4 separate regions of the Homo sapiens genome follow, and regions 2, 3 and 4 are each linked to region 1. Evidence: fine-mapped expression QTL. A gene starts in region 1. Each other region holds a variant in brackets. All regions are shown on one strand. Distances are from middle to middle. Region 1 holds the start of ADGRD1 (adhesion G protein-coupled receptor D1). Region 2 overlaps ADGRD1 (adhesion G protein-coupled receptor D1). Region 3 holds the start of ADGRD1-AS1 (ADGRD1 antisense RNA 1). Region 4 overlaps ADGRD1 (adhesion G protein-coupled receptor D1).

What was found. PIP is the estimated chance that this variant, and not a neighbour inherited with it, causes the effect. A credible set is the group of variants that fine-mapping cannot tell apart.
Region 2: its variant is the best candidate, but not a certain one, in a credible set for the expression of ADGRD1 in testis (GTEx, PIP 0.51).
Region 3: its variant is the best candidate, but not a certain one, in a credible set for the expression of ADGRD1 in prefrontal cortex (BrainSeq, PIP 0.59).
Region 4: its variant is the best candidate, but not a certain one, in a credible set for the expression of ADGRD1 in lymphoblastoid cells (GENCORD, PIP 0.71).

The regions. Positions count from the first base shown.
Region 1 is chr12:130,950,750-130,955,893 of GRCh38, forward strand. ADGRD1 (adhesion G protein-coupled receptor D1) reads left to right here and starts at 3,158. Exons shown (of 25, transcript NM_198827.5): 1 at 3,158-3,782; 2 at 3,875-3,911. The coding sequence starts at 3,717.
Region 2 is chr12:131,116,757-131,121,900 of GRCh38, forward strand. ADGRD1 (adhesion G protein-coupled receptor D1) reads left to right here. Exons shown (of 25, transcript NM_198827.5): 19 at 1,629-1,695; 20 at 4,091-4,157. Among named protein-coding and RNA genes, the nearest start is that of LINC01257, 46 kb to the right of the region's middle. The variant C/G (reference allele first, on the strand shown) is at 1,994.
Region 3 is chr12:130,989,464-130,994,607 of GRCh38, forward strand. It overlaps ADGRD1 (adhesion G protein-coupled receptor D1), which reads left to right. Exons shown (of 25, transcript NM_198827.5): 7 at 1,551-1,615; 8 at 2,774-2,929. It overlaps ADGRD1-AS1 (ADGRD1 antisense RNA 1), which reads right to left and starts at 4,513. Exons shown (of 2, transcript NR_131951.1): 1 at 4,445-4,513; 2 at 1,163-1,674. RefSeq lists an enhancer at 325-494. The variant A/T (reference allele first, on the strand shown) is at 2,220.
Region 4 is chr12:131,093,349-131,098,492 of GRCh38, forward strand. All of the region lies in intron 15 of ADGRD1 (adhesion G protein-coupled receptor D1), which reads left to right. Among named protein-coding and RNA genes, the nearest start is that of LINC01257, 69 kb to the right of the region's middle. The variant G/A (reference allele first, on the strand shown) is at 2,628.

The DNA.
Region 1 (5,144 bases):
TGGGAGCTCAGTGAGGTTGTGGTGGGCTGAGATCGTGCCACTGCCCTCTAGCCTGGGCAACAGAATGAGACTCCATCTCAAAATAAATAAATAAATACAATAAAATCTTGGGTTCCTTGAAGGGGAATTCCAGCCACCTAGCTAGCCCTGAGAAATACATGAGCAACTTGGGAAGCAAGAAGTTAATAGTGGCGAGAAACAATAGTCAAGAGAGTTAGAGTCAGGAATTCATTGCTTCCCTGTAGAAACTAAAGACAACATCGTAACAAACGACCCGGAGTTGTTTTTCAGAACCTGGACCCCCACCAAATGGATCTGTTGACTTACAGACCTCTGATATGGGGGAGCGGAGAGCTGAACTCCACCACCGTTCTTTGTTCTTTGTTTTTTGAGACAGAGTCTCACTCTGTTGCCCAGGCTGGAGTGCAGTGGCTCAATCTCAGCTCACTGCAACCTCCGCCTCCTGGGTTCAAGCGATTCTCTTGCCTCAGCCTCCCAAGTATCCTCCTGAGTACAGGTATGCACCACCACACCCGGCTAATTTTTGTATTTTTAGTAGAGACGGGGTTTCGCCATGTTGGCCAGGCTGGTCTCGAACCCCTGACCTCAGGTGATCCACCTGCCTCAGCCTCCCAAAGTGTTGGGATCCACCCCTCCGGGCCCACCACTGTTCTTTGTTCTAAATTTCTTCCTGAGGGGCCTGGAGGAGGTCATGCCCACAGGCCAGAGCTAACATTCTTTTTTGCTGATCTCAAATTTTTTGACAAAGCCTTGCCTTCTTAACCAATCACAAATCAGAAAACCTCTGAATCTACTACCTATATGACCTGTGGGCCCCCAGTTCAAGATGTCCTAGCTTTTTAGGTCAAACCAATGTGCAGCCTCCAGGTATTATTCATGTGGGACTTAGCCTGTAACCTCTGCCTCTCCACCTTGAAAAACCCTCCCCCATCAGCCATCGGGGAGTTCAGGTCTGAAGTGTGAGCTGCCAGGTTCTGCTCGCCTGGTGCCCTGCTCTAAATGCCTCACTTCCTCTCACTGCAATCCCGACGTCCATGTTTGGCTTTGCTGCGGGAGGGCAGAGCCAGGCTGGGTTTGGTGACAAACGCTGAGTGCTCACCAAGTACCAAGCCCTGTTCTCGGGGCTGGGGTGCAGAGCGAACAGGCAGAAAGAAGGTCTCTGCTCTCATGGGGCCTACGCCTCGGTGGGGAGAGACTGACAATAAATGAAATAAACGTCTAAGATATGAAGTACATTGGATCGTGGTTAGTGGGATCGAGAAAATACAGCAGGGGAGGGCTTTAGGGGGAGGGAGACCTGCTGTCAAGGTGATGTTTGGGTGCCGAACACCCCGACGTTTGGGTGATGGAATGAGATGCTCAGAGACATCAGAGTTGCTTGGTTCCAGGCCCATGGACCACTCAAGGCCCTGTCTCAAATCTCCAGGCTTCAGGACACGCTGCTTTACATGGAGGCGGGCTCTTCATCTGGGCCTCTGAACAAGGCCTGAGACAGGACGCAGGCAAATAGCATGAGGCACGAGACTGTAGTCCGGGATGGAGAGTCAGAGTGAGTCTGAGGATGAGTGCAGATGCCTGCAGGGCAAGCTCTGCTGAATTGCTTTGCTATCTAGTTTTTATTACAGTCATTGAATCGGGGTGTCTCCCATTATCTGATGACAATTTTATGATGAAAAGAAACCATGCTGGCTTTGTTCGGTCATGGAGATGGGAAAGGTCCGCATATTCAGCAATCTGTTGAATTCTTCCAGGTTAAAACTGGAGCTGAGAAAAACCTGCAGCTGCCTGTCCCTCCCTTCACCTCTTCCAGCGAGAGGCAGTGGGGGACTGGAGAGCTGATGAAATGGCAGAGATAAAGGTTGTAAATTAGTTTTCCCTGAAGCCGACCAGCCTGAGCAACAGGATAAAGGTCGTTATTACAGACAGCCCCCGGCCTTTGGAGTTCACAGTTTCTCCATTGCTAGGAGATGGAACTCTCTGGAACCCTTCTCCAGCTCCACAGAGAGGCTCAGGCTATCAGAGGATCTGAGCGGTTGTAGGCTGCAGGCACAAGTTAAAAATAATCACCTAACGTTTTGACAGCACTTTCTTTTTTTCTGTCCCACAGAGATTGGAAGTCATTTTCTTATCCTCTTTAGGAAGTATGTTGGATTCAGGATTCTTAATTCCCATTTAAAGTCAGGACAATTGAGATAACTGTATCAGCTAACATTTACTGGGTGTTATGTTATACTTGCTAATAATAATCATAGCTAACATTTACTGAGTGATAATTTTTCTTAATAGAAAATAGCAGCATTTACTGAGTGCCACATATTTTCCAAGTACTGCCTGAAGAGCCTTGGATCTGTCCTCTAATTTATTGTTACAGCCCTGAGGAGGAGGAACTATTAACCCCCATTTTGTGGATGAGGAATTCGAAAACTAAGAGAGATCAAGTAATTTGCCTAGGAGCACAGCTGGTGAATGTTGGAGAAAGTATGAAGCGGTAAATATTACTTAAATCACATAGCAAATATAGCTGTGACTGCAATTCTAGGGTGTGTGTCTCTGTGTGTCCACGTGTATTTGGAGTAGATCGGATAAACTTTGGTCTTGGGTAAACTGAGGCATGTCTGGCGAAGGGGCTGACTCTTTTCTATCCCATTGAGAACATCCTCCTGGTGCTGGGGTGGGGGTATATGTGGGATGGTGTAATTGCGCAGCGTACCTTGTAATTAATTCCGTAGCTTTCACTGACGTCCGAAAGGATTAGAGAGAAAAATGTGGTCAGCGCTTAATATGGAGGGCACAGTGGGTGTGCTGCTTTCTCTTTTCCATCCCTCTGTCAACTTCATTCTCTTTTGGGGGCAAACAAGACTCAGATCTAAACAGAGTTTATGGTTTGTTTTGCATTTTGTATTTATTAATATTTATGCCGACTTTGAAGGTGCTGACCAGAAGGCATCAGTAACACACACACGCACACGCACACACACCACACACCATGTCTGTTTGGTTTGATTCTGAGCCTGAGATCCTGGAAATATTTCAGCTGTTGTTAAGAGGCTGGAGTTAGGACCCAGGAAGGACACAGCAGTGGGGATATAAATAGAAAAGGAGAACAGAACAAAGTTTGAGGAGAGAGACTTACATCACTCACTCCCCCTCCACCCAGAGAGCAGGACGGAGGTGTGAACTTGAGCCAGACCAGAAGGAGCTCGAGAGCGGCCGCAGGACAAGCCCGAGGAGCAGGCGGGCGCTCCAGGGGAAAACCACGCACAAAACCTTCTTCAGAGAAAAGGGAAGCTCCAAACCTGACTGAGACAAACGGAGGCTCTTGAAATAAAAAGAAAATACCGCAGGACAAACAGCCTCCCGTCCCCGGGCGCAGGTCGCGGTCACAGTGGTGACCTGGGATTGCTTTCCCAGGACTGCGAGTCGGGTTTGGGTTTCTCCTCCCTGCATTCCACAGCTGCTCTGGTCATCGCAACGTGTTTATTGATCACTGAAGAATCTCAAGTTTTGAGACGAGGAAGAAACACCCATTAGGTCTCCAAGACAGCTGTGTTTCACAAACTTTAAGGAGACAGAAATTTTCTCCCCTGGAACCTGTGAAAATGTCCCTTTTCCAAGGAAGTGAAGGTTAAGAGGTCCCGTTCTCACAGACCCTCAGGAATTTCACTTGGCTCCGAGCTTTGACCTCCGAGAGAGCCATGGAAAAGCTGCTGCGGCTGTGCTGCTGGTACTCCTGGCTGCTGCTATTTTATTACAACTTTCAGGTAATGTCCCCAAGTGGCCAGGATGGCGACAGGCTTGGTTTCTCCGGAGGCTTTCCCTGAGTGTGTCTCACACTGTGGTCTTTTGTGCGCAGGTGCGTGGCGTCTACTCCAGATCGCAGGACCATCCAGGTAAGAGTGTTTCCTTCTCACTCTGAGCACCGCTCTCCCCCTGCCTAGTGCAGGTATCTCAGGAACAGCCCACTTGTTCATCTCTGAGGCATCAGCGAATGGCCCTTGTTGGGCTCCTGGTCCCCGACCTCACTGCCTCACCACACACTGTGACCCTGGGCAGCTCTGCTACCCCTCACCGGCTGAGCGGTGGATGGAGAAGTGGTTCTGGGCCCCTTGAGCTGGGTCATATGAAACATTGTGATTAAGGAAATATGATCTTCATTTGAATGCCTTCTGCCTCTTTCTTTCTCTCTTTCTCTCTTTCTTCCTTTCTTCCTTTTTTTCTTTTTGAGATGGAGTCTTGCTCTGTTGCCCAGGCTGGAGTGCAGTGGCCGCAACCTCTGCCTCCCGGGTTCAAGCAATTCTCCTGCCTCAGCCACCTGAGTAGCTGGGATCACAGGTGTGCACCACTACACCCAGCTTTTTTTTTTTTTGTATTTTTAGTAGAGACAGGGTTTCACTATGTTGGCCAGGCTGGTCTCGAACTCCTGATTTCAGGTGATCCGCCCGCCTTGGCCTCCCAGAGTGCTGGGATTACAGATGTGAGCCACCACACCCATCTCATGTCTTCAGGGCAGATTCACTGGTGGGGAGTTGGAGCTCTGGCCCATAGCAGGGTCTCGGGACCTCCAGCCTCAGAGTGCTGACCAGCTTAGCCTGGAGCAGCCGATGAGTGGGACTCGGGATAGAGGGCCACCCTTGCTCCAGCCCCAGAGCCACATTCCATTGGCCATTGTGACACCCAACCAGGAAGCATCAGGACGGGGCTTCTCTCGGGAAGACAGGGAGGCACACACCCTTCGCTGTTAAGAGTGTGGGCACACGTTCTGGTCAGCCAGGGGCAGGGATGGGAAGACGAGGCTTTCTGGGAGCAGCAGGCAGTCACTGGGCTGTTGCTCCCTGCTGGAAGTTGCAGGAGGTGGGGAGGAGACCCTGCTAGTGCCTGAACCCCTGCTGGGAAGCCTGTTGTGAGCACAGCCTCTGCCCCCGCCCCACCAGAGCTTGGCTGGGCACCCCCCCGAGCGCTATTGTATGGCCCTGCCTGTCTCTGATGGGAAATCAGCCTTTTTAAAAAAATTATTTTTGTTTTTATTTTTTGAGACAAAGTCTCACTCTGTCACCCAGGCTGGAGTTGAGTGGTGAGATCTCAGTCTCGGCTCTCTGCTACCTCTGCCTCCCGGGTTCAAGCGA
Region 2 (5,144 bases), 170 kb after region 1:
AGCTGGTCCTTTGCAGTCTCTCATCTCTCTCCCATCCTTCCCTGCAGAGGGAGCAGAGGACAGAGGCTGCTGTGCTCAGGGTGGCTGCACTAGAGCAGGCCCCGTGGATGATGCCCCACTTTCTGAATAACGAGAAGTGTGTTCTTTTCAGAAACAGATTCCCATTCGTGCAGGATCTGTTTCAAAGCTCACACGTGCGTGTGGAAGCAGAGCCATGTTTCCAGACAAATTCCGTGGATGGCTGAGCTTGAGGAGTGTTGCAATGCGATCTTCCTTTTGGAGAGTCATAAGACACATTAGCATACAAAACCTCTGCACTTTAAAAGTGAAAGTAGAGGCCAGTTCAGATTTGGGTTAGGTCAATTCCTACAAGTAGTGTGGCCATAGAGTGTTTTCGTTGCAGAATGATGAAGCTCTGGGGACTGCTGTGATCCAGATGCTTTCTACCTCATTCGTGGGCCTCCCTTCTATCACCACCCCCAAAGTCTCACTTGGCTTTGTCAAATATTAAACACATTTAATTTGTCACACTCAGTTTCAAGTAATAGAAATCCAACTTGAACTGGCTAAGGCAAAAAGGGAATGTGATGGCTCATATAACAAAAAAGTTCTAAGATGCTGGACTTCAGATATGGCTTGATCCATGAGCTTAAGTAATATAATCAAGATTTTGTTTTCTTTTTCCGTCTCTCAGATCTGATCTCTTGTGGTGCCAAAATGGCTGCCTGGACCCCAAGCTCACTGACATCCTTATCCTCTTAGGGGCTCCGTAGAAAAGAGAGTTTCTTCTCAGCAGTTTCGAAGAAAGCCCTTGATTGAGTCTCATTGGGCCAGCCAGGGTCACATGCCCATCTTTGAACCAATAGCTGTGGCTGGGGGATTTGATGTTCCAGTCAGCCAGTCCTGGGTCACATGCCTCAGAGCCAGGAAGGAACCAGCCCACCTGGACCTCATGGAAAGATGGAGTGTGATAGGTTCCCTAAGGAAATTATGGGCTCAAATACTGTAAGAATGTGGACTGTGTGCATGGCAAAGTCAGCCATGTCCGATGTCCCCTCAGTCCCAGCTGATCTCACACCTTTCCACCGCCGCTCTAGAACAGGGCTTCTCAACCAACACTATGGATACTTGGGCTGGGTGACTCTTGTGGGGCAGTCTTGTGCATTGTAGGGTGTTTAACAGAAGCCCTGGCCTCTGCCTGCCTGATTCCATCCCGTTATGACAACCCTAGATGACTTAAGCCATTGCCAGTTGTCTCTTGTGGGGCCACCTTGGCCCTGGTTGAGAACCACAGGTCTAGATAGACCAAGCTGAGCTTACCTTCCTGCCAGTCACAATGCCACATCTCACCCACATGGTTTGTTTTGATGAAGACTCATACACTTTGTTGTCTAGTACAGAAGTGTGAACATGTGAGTATGAGTGTGTGTGTGTTATTCCTTTGTTTAGACTAAAAGTTCTTTGAGGATAGGGGCTGTTCTGTGTCCCAACAATTAGCACATAGTTCCCCCTCTGTATACATGTATGAGGTGTACAAGGAATGAAGAAAGGAAGGGAGGGATGGGGGAGGCGGGAGGGAGGGAAGAAAACTGGAGCAAGTGAACATGATATTCTCCAATCTTCTGCAGGTTTTCCTCTTCTGATCTGCATCATTTCACTGTCATTTGCCATGGACAGTTACGGAACAAGCAACAAGTAAGTGCAGGGCTTTGCCTTGCTTTTGGCAGGCGTTCCATGGAACAGCTTGTGGCGAGAGCCCCGTGGCTCTTGCCTTCCTGTGCTCTTCTGGGTGCAGGGGTGCTGTGCAAAGCTGGCTCCCACAGGCCCAGCCGGTGAGAAAGTCGTGGTCCAGGGAGAGGGAGAAACAACCCAGCTGTGCTCTGGACATTTTGGGGCCTCGGAACTAGCAACAAAGACCACAGAGCGCCTCCAGGAATAGCAGGGGGCCTGCTAGGAGTTTCTGCTTGGAAATGTTTCACCCACGTGGTCTTCT[C/G]AGACACAGTTCTGGTCATCCACGGAGGCTGAATTGTGGCCCTTTCACCCTTTCTTGGGGTGGCCAGCAAGCGCACTGTGCAGACCGTGTGCCCAGTAACTCACAGGGAGCAGACACATGCATGTTGGAGTAAGTGGGGCCTGCTGTGCACCAGGCAGGTGGTCTTGAGGGTCCCATTGCTTGGGTAGTAGGGGATGGACCTTATGATGTCCAGTATCTCCTGTTGCCACTTGAAATGCAGCTCATGGGTCCACAGTTGTGTCAGGAAGAGGATGGGATGGTGCTGAGGGACCAGATCAGCTGTTCACGTTCCAGAAAGATGATTTTCTTTCCTTACAAGTAAAAGAGCTTTCACTCAAATGTTTCTTGGAAGCTGCTACCTGTCCTAGCCACGCTGAGAAACCACTGAGTGAAAACATGGAAAATAAATATTGACGGTGCTTACAAACAGAAAGGAAGTTGAGCATTTTCACAGCTTCAGAATGAGATAATAGTACAGACGAATAGTGAAACTGGGAGAAATCCAGCCTTTTCCACGTTGGTGCAGGTTCCCTGAAGGCGAAGCATTTGTAGAAGGCAGTGTCTGAGCGCACAGTGAAACAAGCATGGTTACGCAGACCACTGTTCTGGCCTTCCTTTCATTCTGGATGCTGTTAGAAGTTGAGGGACTAATTAGAAGAAGAATGTTCTCCTCAAACACAGCTCAATGGCATTTGTTCCCTTTTATCCCATCTGGAGCTTGGGGATGCTGGACCCACAGTCCTGAGTCCCGGGGTCTGACCGTAATACAAGCCTTTTCCCACACTCATGCCCGAAAGCCAGGCAGCACCAGCCAGGTTCAGGAAGCTCACCAGGTTTCTGAACAGGATAGAGTATCTACCAGAAGCCCCTCGTCGACTTAAAATTCTGCATGAAGTGCTGGAAAGCACAATCTCTCTCTTTGCAGAAGCATCCTACTCTCCGGAGAGCCTGGTTTGAATCGCACCTTTGCAGAGGTACCATTCAGACTTGCAGTGCATTTTCCTTTTAAACAGTGCATCCTCAGATGAGAGGTTTCTCCTCTCCGTGCTCTGGGTGTGCAGCCATGAATGAGCCTCTTGCAGGTGCTGTCTCTTGTTTTGGGGCATTTGCCATCTCCTGGTCCGGGAGGCTTTGGGGAGGAATGGGGGCAGGGAGGCAGTGTGCTGACAGTGATCTCTGAAGTCACCTGAGCTATTTAGGGCTCAGATTCCTCATCTGCAGGATTGGAGTGATCATAGCGCCCACCTCAGGGGCAGCATAGGATTAAATGAGATGATGGAGTTTGTTGTGCTGTGGGGCAGACCTGCTGCTCAGTGAGCAGTCACGGAGGGATGAAATAAGCCAGCCCCGGGGAGACACCACATTGGGTGCCAGTGAGGACTGCGCCACGCACCTGCCCAGATCCAATTAAAGGCACTCCAGGTCCTTGGGAAACAGTGTCCAGGAGTCAAGATGAGAGGTCCTAGGGACTCTTCGGCTCTTGACAGTGCCGTAGGCTCTGGAGATAAAATTGTGGAGGAGCTGGCTTTTTTTTGCCCGAGTTCTTGGGGTCACTTCTCAGAGGCCAGATCCTCAAACTGGACCCTCCTCTCAGGACATCAGAGCAATCACTAGGACCCTCTGGAACCTTTCCTCTCAGTTGGAGGGCACGGAGAGAGGGGAACTGACCTCGAGCTTTGGGCATATGGGAATGGTCAGGTGCTGCATCGCTGACGACTCATCAGGATGGGAATCCCTCACAGAAGGCCCCTATTGGGTCATACTTGAAGTGCTCTGCAGGAAAGCCAGTCCCCAGCAAAGGTCTATTTCCTAATGAAATTGAAATCTATTCTGGATTTTGGCTAAACTCTCCAGAGGTTGCTGTCCTGGTCTTCAAACCTGGAAAATCCTTTCCAAGAATGAGACGTGGGATCATCATGGATAAAAATACATTTGCAGGGATTAGGAATGTTGTATGACTGCCCCAGGTGGACCCTGTAGCTGAGAAAGACATCACCTTAGCAACTACTTTTGGATGAAGGTACGCTGGCAGGTGGAACGAGGTTGTTGAAGTAACGGCTCTGCTTCCCTCCGCAGTTGCTGGCTGTCGTTGGCGAGTGGCGCCATCTGGGCCTTTGTAGCCCCTGCCCTGTTTGTCATCGTGGTACGTTTCCTACCCTTGTGGGCGCAGAGCGGGGCTGGGGAGGGGCAGGAGGAGAGGGTGTGGGGCTCTGGAGATGGCGGGGGGCTCCCTGAGGAGCTTCCGAAGGATGCAGCGTCGTTCCTCGGTCACTCCTCGCTAGGGCTCCTCTGGGCCAGTGACTGAGGGTCTTATTTCCCGGAATGCTCAGGAAGGCGGTGCTTTCCAGGCGGGTCCACTCGAGGCCCCAGGGCTCTTCCAGTCGAGGCGGCAGGTGCAGGCACACAGCCCTGAGAACAGCACAGGCGCGGGCTCGTCCTTCCCCATCCTCCGGTGCCTTCTCACCCACCGGCTAGCTCCTTGCTCAGGAGTCACCAGGACTCCAAGGCTGCAGAGGGGAATCTCAGCAGAAGCCTCCTGGGAACCACACATAACAGTTACAGTTACAGTGGTTTGCAAGTGACAGAAAACCCAACTCAGAGTTTTTTGTTGTTGTTTTTGTTATTGTTTTTTTGAGACGGAGTCTCACTTTGTCTCCCAGGCTGGAGTGCAGTGGTGCGATCTCACTGCAACCTCTGCCTCCTGGGTTCAGGCGATTCTCCTGCCTCACTCTCCCAAGTAGCTGGGATTACAGCCATGCGCCACCACGCCCAGCTAATTTTGTATTTTTAGTAGAGACGGGGTTTCACCGTGTTGGCCAGGCTGGTCTCGAACTCCTGACCTCAGGTGATCTGCCCTCCTCTGTCTCCCAAAGTGCTGGGATTACAGGCGTGAGCCACTGTGCCTGGCCCCAACTCAGTGTTTAAACACGGATGGGGATTTACAGGTTCCTGAGTCAGGACCATCTGTGGGGAGGCTGGGCCCAGGGCTCCTGCACCTGCACTGGCATGAGGCTCGTCCCTCATCTTCTCTGCCTCCCCGGATGGAAACGGAGGCTTTTTCCCAGCACTCCCATCGCAAGTCCCAGGCTGGTTCTCATTGGCTGCGGTGAGTCATGTGTCCGTCCCAGAA
Region 3 (5,144 bases), 39 kb after region 1:
GTCCCTGGAAGGCCTGTGTGGGGCCCCGTGTACCACTGCTCAGTGAGTCTGACACAGCCGAGTTCAGGGCAGCCATGCAGAGTGACAACTGGAACTGAAATCCAGTCTGCTCCCAGCCAGGCCGGGCCTCGGTGGGGACATGGCCACACAAGTAGGTAGAAGTCTTTCTTTACATGAAGACCTGTCTGCATTTGAAGCTGTGCTGGGGCTGTAGGTGCCCAGAGGGGGCTTTTTTCTGAGTGACCTGGGCAGAGGTGACACCTCCTCTAATCTCATGAGCCAGAGCTGGCACCATTTGCTGACCGGTCCGTCCAGGTGTGGTGGCCTTTCCTGATACAAAGGCACAGTGCTGACCGTCTGTCACCCTGGCCAGGTGTCCCCTCTCCCTTACCACTGGAATGGACAGCAGCTCTTTCTGTAGAGGAGGAAGAAGGTTATGTTCAGATACGTGTAATCGGAAAGCATGTACCTTTGGGCACTGGAAACACACTCAACACGTGGGAACTGGGACCGACTGAGGACCTGGCAGATTCTCATTTTCACCCCAGTCTCCATGGTCATCGCTTGCAAGCGTTGGCAGGATCGCTGGACCGATTTTCACTATCCCTCACTCTGCTTTGTGGACACACACGAGTTAAATGTGAGTTTGACATGACTCCTCTGTAACTCATTGGCACCTGAGGAGTGAATGTCACTCTGACTTGGAGAACAGAGCGGTTCTGGGGTCCAGTTCTCTCGGCAGCGCCACACCTTCTGCGTTCACCAGCAGCCCAACCCCACCCAAACCCAAGGGCTCAGTCACTCCTGCAGCCAGCAAGGGGTGATGATGTCATTTCCTCAGCTCATCCAAAGCAACTTCAAGAGATTTTCCAAAAATGAAGTAGAATATCTGGTTAAGTGTGTGTTCTCATCAGGAAATAGTGGGATTAGAAATAGTTGGGGGTGAACAGGCAGAGAACAGCAAATCATGGCTTAGTCTTCAGCCTTAAATGTCTTCATTGTTTGTAATAATTCATCATTAACCCCATGGGGGCTGAGTGCAAAGAATAGCTGGAATCCTTGGGCTAGAGGGGGCTCAGGAAGACAGTTTTCTCCACTGCTTTACTGGGGCCTATTCTCACTTCATCGATCTCAGAGGAGAGCGCTCCCAGGGCTCCTGTCTGTGCTGGCCCAGCGAGTTGTAGCACTCCTCATTTTATCTCCAACCAGTCTGGATGCAATTGAAATCTATTTCTTTTGGTTCTTTATTTATTTGAAATCGGTAATCCTTGTATAAAATCATCTTTTGATATGCTGACTTGCATGAAGGGTGTTCAAAAGCGATTGAGAATACAAATGGAAAAGTAATGTGACCTGGGAAAATCTATACGGTCGACTCAGTCAGCTGATTTCTTAGCCCATAATTTATCTCCAGCAACATTCCTACTCAAAACATTCTCAGACTCTCTTCCATGTGTCTGAAGCCAGTACATTTTTAACAAGGACAGGTCTTCCTCGTGGTGAAAAAAGTGACCATGTTTTAGTCCTTAATCCAGCATTGTTTCTTCCAGGAAAGCATGCTTTATTGTCTTCAACGCTGCCAAGCCTCTTCATGACATCCACAGCAAGCCCCGTGGTGAGCAGACACATCTTCCTTGGTCCCCCTTGCTGATGTTCTTCTGCTTGGGCTGTTTGCTGGGAGAGAGAAAATTCCATTAGGTGTCTGGGCTCTCTGTTATCGGCAGTACATTGTCTGGGAAGAAATAACAAATGGAGGGGAAGCCAACTGCAGTACTAATTCTTGGTGCTAAGAGTGACTGAAGGGAAAACTCTCAACTCCTGCCACCAGGAACCTCAGGTGCCCAAAAGGAAATACCGGGCTCATTCATGGGACGTGGGCGCCGTGAGTGGGGAGTGAGGAATCTGCCCTGCTTGGCTTCTCTCTATGCCCTTTTCGTTTGATGTTAGAGAAAAGTTCAATTCATATAGAAAAATTCTTGTCTGGAATTAGTGTTTGTAGTTAAAGAACTGTCCTTTCTTGAGAACGTTAATATAATAGTGAGTGCACAGACTCTGACCCATCTGCTTGGGTTCAAATCCAAGTTCTACCACTTATTTTTGAGTAAGCCTCTCTGCGCTTAGTGTCATCCATCAAATGGGGACTTATTTTGTAAGGTTGTTGTGAGGATGAAATGTTAATATAAGCAAAATATTCACAAAAGTGTCAGATACATGGTAGG[A/T]GCTATATTACTATCATGGTATAAAAACATTTGACCAGCTGGGTGTGGTGGTTGCACCTGTAGTCCCAGCTGCTCAGAAAGCTGAGACAGGAGGACTGCTCGAGTCCAGCCTGGGAAACACAGTGAAACCCCATCTCTATAAATAAAAAAAAGAGCAGCCAGGCACAGTTGCTCATGCCTGTAATCCCAGCAATTTGGGAGGTCGAGGCAGAAGGATCACTTGAGGTCCGGAGCTCGAGACCAGCCTGGCCAACACAGTGAAACCCTGTCTCTACTAAAAATACAAAAATTAGCCAGGCATGGTGGTGCACGCCTGTAGTCTCAGCTACTTGGGAGGCTGAGGCAAGAGACTCGCTTGAACCCGGGAGGCAGAGGCTGCAGTGAGCCGAGATTGCGCCACTGCACTCCAGCCTGGGCAACAGAGCAAGACTCAGTCTCAAAAAAAAAAAAAAAAATTAAAAAAAGCATTCGACCCAGAGTAGGACACATTAAACTTCTGTATAATATTTTGGTTTTAGTTCTTAGTAGAAACTCATGTTGCCAATTTCTTTCAGATGCCCACAGATGCCTACCATCCCATCATAACCAACCTGACAGAAGAGAGAAAAACCTTCCAAAGTCCCGGAGTGATACTGAGTTACCTCCAAAATGTATCCCTCAGCTTACCCAGTAAGTCCCTCTCGGAGCAGACAGCCTTGAATCTCACCAAGGTAAGGCTATTTGATGTCTGTGTCTGGTGGACCGGGCGTGGCACCCTTACCGGGACCATAGATGTTTCTGTTTGACCTAGATCGAGTTTAAAAAAAGCAGGAACTTTTACTGAAACGTTTGGGTTTCAGGCTTCTCATGAACAACCAGCTGGTGTGGCCCTCCTGGCCAGCTCTGTACAGCTCAGCGGAGCTTCCTTTATGGGCACTTGAGTCTTTGCTGTGGTTTCCCAATGCCCAACCTGCCTGGTCCCCCCTGTGCAGCCACCTGGCCCCCGCGGGCGTGTGGTTGGCAACTCCTAGACTAAATAAACTCTGCTGCCTCCTGGCAACAGGTAAAAGGTGGAGAGGCCTCACTGGCAGATCCAGCCGTGGGGCGTGGGCCACAGCCTGTGCACAGTGGGAGTCCCCAAAGCTATCTAAACACTTAGAGAATGCAACATTTATGGCATTAAAATCAAGATGGTTTCTCTTTCTGCTCCTCCAAATAGTTTCCAGGTGAAGGCAGAGGGTGGATCGTGGGCTCTCGTGGACTTGCTGTCTTCTGTTTTAGGGCTAGGGCTTATCTTGGTGGATGCGAAGACAGAAGGGGTTTTGAGATTGGCTCACCTTGAAAGCACAGCATATGGGTTAGGAGCAGGGTATATGAAGTCCCACGGCTGCACTGACCTTTGATCTGCAGTTACTCTGTGTCCTTGGTCAAGTGACCTAACATCTCTGCCTCACTTGGCTCCTGAGATGTGGAGGAAATAATAACAGCGCCCACTTCATCGGGGATAAGTGGGTTCCTATGTGCACAGAACAGTGCTGGGTACGTGGTGAGCACTTTTCAAGGGTTCTTAATTCTTACTGATTTCCTTGCTGAAGTCACACCCAAAGAAGCACATGCAGAGCCATGTGTTCAGGGACTTGAGACATCTTGGAATGGAGGGAGGTTGCCCTCAGCTTTTCTGTCCACGTAAGAGAAGTTAGACTTCTCAGATTTCATTCATTCATTCATTCATTCATTCATTCATTCATAGACCATACTAGATTCTGGGAGTGCAGGATGACCAAGTGCTAATACTCCCTGCTTTCAAGAGGCTCAGGGTTGAGGGAGTGATGACAGGTCATGGAGTCTGAGAGGGGCTTTAAAGGGAACTACATGGAGCTGCGGGACTCAGCGGTCCTGGAGTCACAGAGACCTGGCTTTGACCCCAGCTCCACCACTCCCGGCTCTGTGTCCGTGGGAAGGTTATTTAACCTCAGCACACCTGCTTCCCACTGTGACATGGGGACAGTGAGATCGCCCATGTGTCTCAGGTACTTCTGGCTGTGAGAAACAGGGCCCTCTGCTTAGCGGACTTAGACTTCAGGCCATGTACTCGCTTCAGGCAACAAGAGGCCCAGAGGCGGGAATCCTAGGAGTCACTAACTCAGTCTTCACTCACAGCAGGGGCTGGATAGGCACCGCCACAATTCTCTCGGCACTCGGCCCTTTTCTCGCCCAGCTGCAGGCCCCCAGCACCCTCGCCTTACCCTGGCACGTCCAGGAGGGAAAGAACGGGTCGGGAGACTCCCTCCTCGTCAGGGGGAAATCTTTCCCATGGTTCCCTTTGCTGAGACACCCCCTCACATCTCAGTGGCCAGAGCTGGGCCACATGACCACACCTGGGCCAATCACTAACCAAGGGGAGTGGGATTAGCAACCAGCTCAGCCAATCATGAAGGAGCTCTAGGGTGGGGCCAAGGCTGCCCAGTGTGGGAGCGCTTCCGGGCTCCGAAGGGAAGGACCCGCGGGGTGTTGGGTGGAAAGAGCGGGTATAGACAAGCTGGAAGGTCCTTATGCATGTATGCACAGGACCGGGCGTGAGGCCCCGAGACAGGGCTTGGTATGCAGTAAGTGCTTTATTAATACGAACACTCTTGTTTTTGTTGAGATGGGCTACAAGGGGTGACTGTGGCAGGCGGTGCCTTCTATGCAGTTAGCACTTAGTAAACACTCACACTCCGGGCACTAGTGCCCTGCCTGTAGCTAAGGTATGCAGTCGGGGCTTCATGCCCACTTGGCACTGGCACCCTCCCCTCTAGCCGTGGTACACAGTCGGCGCTCAATAAACACCCACTCTGGGCACGGGCGCCCTCCCGTCTGACTAGCCATGGGTACCCTGCAGCATCCTCAGGAATGTGCAGCAGACACTTAGCAGGCTCCCTCTGTGTTTCCGGGTGTCTAGGGAAG
Region 4 (5,144 bases), 140 kb after region 1:
ATGGGTGGGAAAGGAAGGGCACCGTGGGGGCACACCACGCCTTCCTGAGGCAGGAACGGCAGTGCAGCCTCCGCCCAGACCCATGGTTCTAGGCCCCGTGCCCCGCGGTTACCCAGCCAGGTGCAGCCTTGAGCCTCTCAGATGGGCCCTGGCTCCAGGGAAGGGCACAGGGCGGGCAGTGGCAGGGGCCTGAATTACACGGTGTTGCTGGGAGCTGTGAGAACCACTCTGAGCTGTATTTGCGGTCCCGAGGGTGTGTCACAGGCGGGACTGTGCCAACTGCAGTGCCGGCAGCCGCAGCATGTACAGCTCAAGTCAGAAACAGGCTCCCTCCACGGGGTCTCTGTGTGAATGTTAGCCAGACCACCTCCCAATAACACCTCCTGCATGCAGCTGGGGTTAGTAGTGGCCCCTCTGCCTCCCAGCCAGCTGGACACACAGGTCCCTCCCAGTGATGTGCCAGGTGGCCTTGGGCAGGTGCCTGCTCTGAGCCTCAGTTTCCCCGCTGTGACATGGGTGGGACCCTTTCCTTGTGGAGCTGTGGTGGTGATGAGGAGGCAGAAGTAAGCACAGCTCAGGCCCAAGCACCCAGCCTCAGCAGCACCCAGCCTCAGCACCCAGCCCTGAGCACCCAGCCTCAGCACCCAGCCCTGAGCACCCAGCCTCAGCACCCAGCGTCAGCACCCAGCCTCAGTCCCCAGCCTCAGCACCCAGCCTCGGCACCCAGCCCTGAGCACCCAGTCTCAGCACCCAGCCCTGAGCACCCAGCCTCGGTACCCAGCCCTGAGCACCCAGTCTCAGTACACAGCCTCAGTACCCAGCCTCAGCACCCAGCCCCAAACACTGCCTGACAGAGTGAAGTCACAGTGAGCCATGAGTATGAGGTCCCTAGGGATGTCCTGGCCCTGAGGACCCCTGAGAGTGGAGTGGGAGTGGGGTGGGGTGGAGCAGGCCTGGCTACTGCACCTGGGACTGCAGCCATCCCAGCATTGACCCGTTCATGGCCACAAGTCTCCTTCCATTCACTCTTCATAAGGAAGGTTCAGTCCTGTGGCTGTGGGCACCGGGGCAGGACGGTCTATTGCCCTGTTGATGGGGGTGGGGGTAACTGTGGAGGCTGGAGGGGCTCCAAGGAGAGGCCCCTCCACCCATCCCTGGACCCCTCTAATCCTGGAGGCAGAAGAGGGTCCTGCCTTGCCCAGGAGTAACAAGGAAGTTGGTTTGTTCAGCAGCGCCCCCCCGACTCCCCAAGCAATACTGTGGTTCACCAGTGTCTTCTGGCTGAGTGGGGAGGGCATGCATCCTCAGTACCATCCTCTTAGAGACCCAGAAAATTGTCACCATCCCTTCTGATTTCCCAGCCTGTGCAGTTCTTCCAGAAGGAGAGGGTGGTGGGCAAAGCCTGCTGGGTCCTTCTGCATGGGCTCCTTACCATTCCACCAGCAAGCCCTCCAGGTGCACGGGTGCACGCTGTTCCCGCCCCGCCTTACAGATGAGTTTTCCTGAGCCCTGTCCTGGGCTGCTGAGAGCTGGGCTGGGGATGGGAGCTGGGAGCTCACCCGGGGGAGGCGCAGGGGCATGCGTCCTTCCACCCCCTCCCGTCTCCTGCCCTACCCACCCCTTCCCATGCCCCTCCAGTCTCCCTCGAGACGCCCCCTCTCAGCCCCCAGGGCCCTCCCCTGTACCCTGTGGCCTGTGCCTCTCTGAGTGGAGAGCTGAGTGAGCCCTGGGAACAGGGCTGACACCTGCCACCCCCATCTCTCCCTTCAGTCCCCCCGACTCTCAGGCTGCTGGCCACCTGGGACATTGGGAAATGGGCCTAAGAGGTAAAAACCTGCACTTCGAGGTGGAGCAGCAGCCAGTTGCTGCCGGGACTCAGCTTTGCTGTCAGCTCAGCCCCAGCCCTGCCTGGGCACCTTGCAGTCCTGGGGGCAGGGAGACGTAGCTTCAAGGTTCTGAGGGTTCCACCCCTGCCCCTCTTGACAAATTCAATTGCCGTTGCCTCCTCCAACCAGACCCAGGCTGCTCCTTTTAGAGGAGAAGCATATGTTGCTTCATTTATTCCCTAATTCTCCTGAAGAAGTGTCTGCTCTGGAGTGTGCTGGGCTGGAGCCGCTCTGCAGAGGGAGCTGCAGCAGCCTCTGGGGTGGTCCTGTCTTGGGGGATCTTCTTTCGGGGCTACCCTCAGAATTGGGGTCTTACTCTGTGGGGCTGAGGGTGGGCCGGGTGACCAGGACTGGGAACATGGTCAGGGGCCAGACTGGACGTTCCCAGGGCAGATGGACGCATAGCCCGGCCGAGGGATCGGGTCGCTTTGCGGGGCAGCTGTGGGCTGCAAGGCTGTGGTCAGGGCTTGACGTCTGAAGCAGGCCAGGTTTCTGGTCAACACGTATTTTTTGTCATGAGTGTGTTGAATCTTGGGAATTAGAGTGGGGATGTGGGCCGTCTTTGAGAAGCCGCCAGCCCCCGTGTTAGGAGTGGGACAGGAGCTCGAGGGTTCTTTTTGGGACATACAGGAAGCTGGGGTGTCAGGAGACAGAGGGGTTCTGTAGGTTGAATTGTTTGTAAAGATGATACACGCATGTGGGAAAATGCAAGAACACAGAAGGCAGAGTGTGGAAACTGAC[G/A]GTCACGGCCACCGTTCCCGCCTCCCAGCCCTGCCCAGAGCAGCGGCTTAGGGTCACGGCCACCATTCCTGCCTCCCGGCCCTGCCCAGAGCAGCGGCCTAGACACGCGCTTGCTTTTCTGTCATTCCAGACGCAGTTGCTGAGCCTGGGGCCCCGCTTTGCTCTTTGTTCTTTTTTTGTTTGTTTTTAAAATTTTCTGTACCTCAATGGATGCAAACCTTCCTTTAAACAAAGGGTAGTGAAGCATAAAGACTGCACCCTTTATTTTTATTTACAATTTATTTGTGTTAGAGACAAGGTTGCACGCTGTGGTCCAGGCTGGAGTCAGTGGCGCCACCTTGGCTCACTGCAGCCTTGACCTCCTGGGCTCCAGAGATCCTCCTACCTCAGCCTCCCAAGCAGCTGAGACTAGAGGTGTGCACCACCATGCCTGGCAAGATAGCACACTTTAAAAAATGTATGCACGTATCTTGGAGGTTGCTCCTTCTCAGGGTACACAGAGCCACATCTCCCGTGTTAACCACTGCATAGCTCTCCCGCGGGTGGACACTGAAGTCATGGTGGTCTTTGGCCGCAGCAAATAACCAGCATCCTATGCACACATCCCGCCTCCATCTGTGAGGATGGGTTCCCGTGGGGCACTGCTGGTCCAGGTTTACATCCCGCCTCCATCTGTGAGGATGGGTTCCCGTGGGGCACTGCCGGTCCAGTTTTATATCCCGCCTCCATCTGTGAGGATGGGTTCCCGTGGGGCACTGCCAGTCCAGGTTTACATCGCCACAACTGTTTAAAGCAGCCATCGTCTGGGGCACAGTGGGGACTCAGCCCTGAGTTCCCAGTCATGTTGAGTCCTGGGTTCTGCTCTGAGATCCACCTGCCTCCTGCTGCCCGGCTCTGCCTCCCACGGCCGACCACTGTGCTGAGTTGCAGGTCTGTCACTTGGGGCAGGTGATGGGAGGGGAGGAGGCCCAGCAGCTCTTCTCTCGCCCCTACACGTGGCTTTTTGGGCAGTGGCCACGCCTCTGCTGTGGCTGCAGCCCTGCTGGACAGTCTATGGATCTGGCTTCCACGGGGGGATTTGTGGCGAGGCTCATTCCTGGGCCACCTCACTACCCCTATGAGGTCCCCCTTTCTCTCCCCTCCCGAGGGTTAGCAATTCCCTGAGTCAAATGTTCCACTCTTTGAAAGGCTGGAGTGGTTTCTGTTTTCCCAGATGGCCCCAGACTGATGCACAAGCTGTGCGGCCAGGGGAGACAGCAGGAGCCCCCAGGGTTCCTGGTCTGGAAAACAAGAGGGTGATGGTCCCCCCAGCTGACACTTTCAACAAGGTCACTGTGACCCGAGGCAGGCCAGTCCCAGCATCTGTTCAAACACACAGCAGCCCAGCTGGGTCCTCGGGGAAGATCTCCTGCCTGTGGCCAGTCCTCTCCCGTCCTGCAGCACCCCTCAAGTGGCCAAGCAGCTCATTTCTACCTGTCCCCGGGCTGTCGGTTCATTTCCATCAGTGGACGTGAAATGTGCCAGCAACTGGACCCAGCCCGGGGGAGGCTGGCTGCATGCTGCTGGCACATGCTACGGCTGCCTACGGCCAGGGATGGCCGCCAAACCAGGGATGCCTGGAGTCACAGATCCGCCAGGGCCTGGTCACTCGTGCTGTCCAGGAGCCAAGGGCAGGAGTGCAGCCCAGCCAGGGGCTGAGGGCTGCCCTGAGGGGAGACAGGCCCCGTGAGAGCCTGGATGCCAGCCGCGGAGAGACCAGAGACAGGCAGGAGCCAGCCTGGCCGGGACAGGGTGGGCGTCAAAGGTTGGGGAGCAGATGGTTGGTTCAAGGGCTGGTGTGGGGGTGGAGTGTGGACCTAGCCCGGAGTTCCTGCTCTTGTGCCCGGGAGCCCATCCTCTGCTCACCCTGCTCTCTGCCCTACGCTTGGCTTCCTGCCAAGTCCAACCAAGGAGAGATGGTGCTGCTGGGGTGGGCGAAGGGGCCAGCCTCCTGCCTGGGCTCCTGCTGGCATGGGCGTCCCCCTGTGGCTCCAGCGCCTGCATGCAGACCCTCCCCTGCACCCCCGCGCCAGCCTCACCTGGGCAGGCTGGTCTGGTTCCAGTTTCTGCTGGTGGCCCGGCCTGGCTCTGCTGCTGTCCCCTCTCCCACTGTCCTCCCGCGGTGGCCGCTGTCTGGGCCTCACTTCCTTCTCCCGCAGTGGCTGCTGTCTGGGCTGCCTCACTGCCTTCTCTGCTTTTTCAGGGCTTCCCTCACCTTCATAACCAGCTCCCCAAGTCCAATCCCGAGCGGGGAGGGTCTTGCTTTCCCATGATGAAGGGAGAGGGTGGATGGAGGCAGGTCAGAGGCACGGGCTGGGGCTGGAGCATGCGGGGCCTCAGAAGCCATGGTGGGGGAATGGGGGTTTGAGTCTGAGACTCAGGCGCTATGGAGGGGGTGAGCCATGAGGGACGAGGCTCCAGTGTACAGCGGAACCCAAGCCAGGAGGGACATGGTAGAGGATGGGGCTGGTGCTGTGG